Regions from separate parts of the Homo sapiens genome. Here region 2 is linked to region 1. A link means that fine-mapping ties the variant in region 1 to the expression of a gene that starts in the linked region. Tissue or cell type: whole blood. Region 1 holds a variant in brackets; the other region holds the start of a gene. All regions are shown on one strand. Distances are between the middles of the regions. Region 1 overlaps FAM81B (family with sequence similarity 81 member B). Region 2 holds the start of FAM81B (family with sequence similarity 81 member B).

Region 1 (2,930 bases):
TTCTACTAAAATCCATTTTCTTCTGCAAAGTCCACCAAATCTTCAAATAAATGTTTATAAAGTGCTTTACTTTTTCCAGTCATTAATATATAAAGAAGCAGGTAAGTTCAAGAATGTTTGGATCCAACTGGGGCATGATGGCATACAGTTGATAAGAAAGATGGGGACGATTTTCAAAGTGTCATTCCTCAGCCAAAGTGAAGGATGCACTAGGTTGTCTATGTTAGATTTAGTGGCAAATATAGGAAGTCTATCTTCTTTGACAGTCAAATCCCAAACTAAGAATATTTCATCACTCAATGAGTTTCAGAACACTGGAGGAACCTCTATATCGGCAAGCATCTTTGGTTCAGAATGTTGCTCAGCTTGTGGAATTCTTTTTATTCTCTGATGAAGAGTGTTTTTTGAAGGCAAGCATGGCACTATGTGTGAAGGGGCAGAAGTCATACATGATTGAATCATTTGACAGGGGACATTTGTTATATTTTTCACCTGTGTTTTTACTTTTTCTATGATTTTCGAAACACTCAAAACATTGAGAATAGATCTTTCTCACGTTGTGCACTCAGACTCACACACTAATCTCCTCTGGAAACACCCTCACAAGATACACTGCTACACCAGGTTCTAGGTATCCCTTAATCCAGTCAAGGGATTTTAAACTTTAGGAATTTCAATGTTTGAGATTATGTCTTTTGGGATTATGATTGGTACCATTCATGAACTAATTTCCTTAACTATGAAATTAGAATAATTCTGTTAGACAATATGAAAATGTACAATGTGAATCTCTAAGGGAGAGACATCATATGCAAGGTTTTCTAAGTGTATTTGATCATAGAATTCTTTTGTGGTGGCCTATCCTCCTGACTCCTATTCCAGGACTCACACCTTGGAAAACTCTCTAACACAGTCACTTTTGCATCTTTATAGTTATAAAAACTTAATTTTTTCTACGTTAAAGTAGAATTTTCATAAGGGGTATATAAAGGCGTCAGTCTTGGAAGAAGGCTTCTAACATCTTCTTTCATGAATGCCTCTACCCACTCCTAACTACCACCAATTGGCTTGAAGCATGAAAAGTGCATCTGCTTCTTAGATGAGACCTTCACCAAATTCTAACCATGGCAAGTGCTTAAAATCCTATCAAACTTCTCACAGGGCAAAAATAAAGGATCAGAAGTGAGGATTCTAGTTCTGGTTCCTGGCTCCTCCAGCTCATTCTTGTAATGCCCTGGTGTTTCCTTTTCCTTTTTCTGATCAGGAGTCATGCTTTTCTCCCCATCATTCCAAACACCCAGAGAGGTCAGCTAGAAGACAGACTGAACAACCAGGCGCGTACCATAGCTTTCCTTCTTGAACAAGCCTTCCGCATCAAGGAGGACATCTCTGCTTGCCTG[C/T]AGGGGACCCATGGCTTTCGAAAAGAGGAATCGCTCGCCAGGAAGTTACTGGAAAGCCACATCCAGACCATCACCAGCATCGTCAAAAAACTCAGCCAAAATATTGAGGTAGTTCTCTTTTTGTTTTATTTTGTTTTTGTTTTGTATTTTGGCAGCATTGCTTGATAAAGATTATCAACCATCAGTGTCATTTTTCAAGTGCAGAAATATATCACTATTGCTTAAGTTTAGATGATTACATTTTAGTGGTCTAAGAGGGAAACAGTTCAATTTTTCAGCTGTTCATTTATGCCAAAAAGTAGAAGGAACTTCTATTCAAAAAATATTTACTGTATATTTATTTTGTGACAACAAAGACATTATGTCAGACATTGTGCTAAGATGCTTATGTTAGCCTAAATCTCCAAGATTCTATTAATGCAATAACTTCAAATAGAGGTTTTCATAATGCACATCAGTAACGCTCCATTGTATAGCCATTGCAATCTGATGCCAGCAATTTCTCTAGCCCCGTCTTCTACCCTTCTTTCCTTCACTCTGGCCACACTGGCCTCCCAGCTGTTCCTAGGACATTCCAAACACATTCTGGCCTTGGGGTCTTTGCACTCATAATTCACTCTGGCTGGATCATCTTCCCCTAGATATTCCTATGCAACGTGCTTCATTCCTCCAGGTTTCTGTTCAAATATAGCCTCGTAACAGAGGATTTGCATGACATTTTATAAAATAGCACCTCTACCCACATGGTTTCAATCTCCCTTAAAGCCTACTTTATTTTTTTTGTCACATAGCACTCATTGCAAACTACCATGGTCTATATTTGATTCCTGTTTGTTTTCTCTTTCTAAGATATAATCTCTATAAAGTCAAAGAGTTTGTTTTCTTCATGCTAAATCCCATATCCCATACCAGACAACAGTGGTGTTGTAGTCAGCACTCTAAATATTCCTTAAATTGATGAATGAATAAATTAATTAATTTTAAGGCATTAGAGTAAAAATAGAGTTTCTCATCAAAAAAAGAAAATTCTTTGTCTAAATCAAGAGAAACATGCTTGTGTAAGAGGTCTTCGAGAGTTGCTAGGGTGCAGATGTACGTGATGAATCTGGGTTAACAATTTTCATGCAAGGGCTACAGATAGTGTACTTTAGGAAACTGGCCCAAAACTTGTGGAGTTATCATGAGAATTGACAACAATGCAGTCTCACGATACTTGTCCTTTTCTACTATCAAAGAGAATACTGGATTTTATTAAAATTATGGGATTGAACCAGCAATTACTCCTTTGTGAATTTGTTCTTAAGGGCAAGGATATTGATTAATTCATTTTCCATCTGCAGGGTTTAACAGACCCCATAATGTACCTGAGGCAGTGTGAAAAGTTAAAACTCTCAGTGAACTTTTAAAAAGCACTTTATTGGTATTTAGCACATTTTGAATTGACCTCAGTGCTTCAAAGGTCAATGCCACTCTCAAAGTGATTAAAGGTATTTCCATGCATAATGAAGTATCATGAAAGTGACAAGAGGC
Region 2 (2,930 bases), 23 kb before region 1:
CAGGAGCCCACTCCTATGATAACTAACTCATTCCCACAATAAGGGCTTTAATTCATTCATTAGGAGAGAGCCCTCATGACCTAATCACTTCTTAAAGCCTCCACTTCCTAATACTATTAGAATGGCAATAGGCCAGGCACGGTGGCTCACGCCTGTAATCCCAGCACTTTGGGAGGCCGAGGTGGGCAGATCACGAGGTCAGGAAATCGAGACCATCCTGGCTAACACGATGAAACCCTGTCTCTACTAAAAATACAAAAAATTAGCCGAGTGTGGTGGTGGGCACCTGTAGTCCCAGCTATTTGGGAGGCTGAGGCAGGAGAATGGCATGAATCTGGGAGGCCAAGCTTACAGTGAGCCAAGATCGCACTATTGCACTCCAGCCTGGGTGACAGTGCAAGACTACAACTCAAAAAAAAAAAAAAAAGAATGGCAATTACATTTCAACATGAGTTTTGGTGGAGAGATTCAAACCAGAGCAGACATTAATAATATACATATATATTATGTGCATTGTTATGTTAAAATTGAATAGCCATTTATGTTTAGAGAACAAACCTACCAAAATTGTCCATTTTAGTAGGGCCCATTTTTCTAACCAAATACCATGGATTAAAAGCTGAATTTAAGAAGAGAAAGAATCTTAAAAAGTTGTTAAGCAAGGTTAAATCTAGTTTTTCTTTCTCACACAGACTCTGCTTGTGACTGTTTCTTGGATAATTGGCACCTTGTGAAATAATCGCTAATAATAGTTATCTTTTAGTGGATTCCTGGCACCGCCCTCAGCTGAGCGCTGTAAGTATATTATTACATTTAATCCTCTCAACCATCTTATGGGATCGATATTATTAGCTCATTTCACAGAGGAGAAAGTTGAGGCTTAAAGAGGTGATGTAATTTTGTCCAAACTAAACAGCTGGTAGGTTGAGGAGTCAGGGTTCCAATCCACTCTCTCAGAATCTGTAGCCACCTGCTCTTAGTCACTGCTGTGTGTCAGTCTCCCTTGGCACTAGATACAATGGTGATTAGGGTAGCATAATGAGCCTTTTGGACTGCTTGCAAACCATGAACTACTGCATCTTTGAGTTTTAAGGGCTTAGCTTAGGACTAGGGGATATGCATGGAAGCCCAAATCATAGGTGTCCTTTATCTGTGGGATCAAAGTTTGTCACTCAGCATCCTGAACATTGTGTGCCTTTAAACAAGGCAAATCTGATACCATAATTTGGACAACAACTTAGCCAAAGCATCATTTCTGTATATGGAGGCCAAGTAGTACTAACAAACATGCAAATTCTAATTTTAAAACTCAGACAAACATTTTACAGCTAAAACAATCCACCCCCTTTTGGCTAAATAACTGAACAAAATTTCCCCTACAAAGGCAAAGTTCAATATTTTCATTTCTGTAAAACTCTGACCCATGTCACTTTTCATCAGTGCTGCACTATCTGTGAAGTCCCCTTCTAACCTAGAAGAGTTAGCTTCCTCCCTAACATACTTGGAGAAAGATTTGGGCATACCGCAGCATTTCATTTCCTCTTTGTCTAGCTTGATGATAACTCGTCACTTTTCAAACTGTGAAGATGAAATCAGGAGAAGAGTGTGAAATATCAGTATAACAATGGCCACTTCCCACCCCATGAGACAAAGAAGTGAAAGGCTTAGTGATTTGTATGATGATGAGCACTACAGAAAACATTCAAAGCTTCTAAATCCCAGGGATTTCCTGACTTCAGTTGTGAGGGCCAGCCACACTGACATCATAGATCCTTCCTGCAGTCACAATGCTACTAAGTCACCCTTGGGAAGAGGCCCCAGAAACAGGAAGACCTTAGTTAGGATGCAATTACAATTCCTTGGTACATTGGCTTCCTCAGAAAAAAGAAAAAAATCACAGAGATTGTTTTTCAAAAATATCAAATCTACAAAAAATAAAGCTGGAAAAGCAAGCATCATGAGTTCAGGTACTTATGGACTATTCGAGGTCTCTAAATTTCTCCTACTTCACTATCTTTCTTCTGTTTCTTATTACATATAAACAAAATAATGAATCCCAATGAAGACCCTCAGAAGGCTTGGGCACAACAGAGTAATAACTTAAACAAATGTACAAGAAAAAAAAACCCCATCAAAAAGTGGGCAAAGGATGTGAACAGACACTTCTCAAAAGAAGACATTTATGCAGCCAAAACATACGAGAAAAAGCTCATCATCACTTGTCATTACAGAAATGCAAATCAAAACTACAATGAGATACCATCTCATGCCAGTTAGAATAGTAACCATTAAAAAGTCAGGAAACAACAGATGCTGGGGAGGATGTGGAGAAATAGGAACGCTTTTATACTGTTGGTGGGAGTGTAAATTAGTTCAACCATGTGGAAGACAGTGAGGTGATTCCTCAAGGATCTAGAACTAGAAATACCATTTGATCCAGCAATCCCATTAATGGGTATATACCCAAAGGACTATAAATCATTCTACTATAAAGACACATGCACACGTATGTTTATTGCAGCACTGTTCACAATAGCAAAGACTTGGAACCAACCCAAATGCCCATCAATGATAGACTGGATAAAGAAAATGCCGCACATATACACCATGGAATACTATGCAGCCATAAAAAAGGATGAGTTCATGTCCCTTTGCAGGGACATGGATGAAGCTGGAAACCATCATTCTCAGCAAACTAACACAGGAACGGAAAACCAAACACCACATGTTCTCACTCACAAGTGGGAGTTGAACAATGAGAACACATGGACACAGGGAGGGGAACATCACACACTGGGGCCTGTTGGGGGTTGGGGGCTAGAGGAGGAATAGTATTAGGAGAAATACCTAATGTAGATGATGGGCTGATGGGTGCAGCAAACCACCATGGCACGTGTATACCTACGTAACAAACCTGCATGTTCTGCACG

What was found. PIP is the estimated chance that this variant, and not a neighbour inherited with it, causes the effect.
Region 2: FAM81B starts here. The variant in region 1 is fine-mapped to the expression of FAM81B in whole blood (INTERVAL, PIP above 0.99). The same link has a PIP of 0.9 or more in blood mononuclear cells.

The regions. Positions count from the first base shown.
Region 1 is chr5:95,412,683-95,415,612 of GRCh38, forward strand. FAM81B (family with sequence similarity 81 member B) reads left to right here. Exons shown (of 10, transcript NM_152548.3): 4 at 1,265-1,508. Among named protein-coding and RNA genes, the nearest start is that of FAM81B, 23 kb to the left of the region's middle. The variant C/T (reference allele first, on the strand shown) is at 1,401.
Region 2 is chr5:95,389,547-95,392,476 of GRCh38, forward strand. It overlaps FAM81B (family with sequence similarity 81 member B), which reads left to right and starts at 1,820. Exons shown (of 10, transcript NM_152548.3): 1 at 1,820-1,967. The coding sequence starts at 1,844. LOC105379089 (a long non-coding RNA gene) reads right to left here and starts at 1,626. Exons shown (of 3, transcript XR_948586.1): 1 at 1,524-1,626.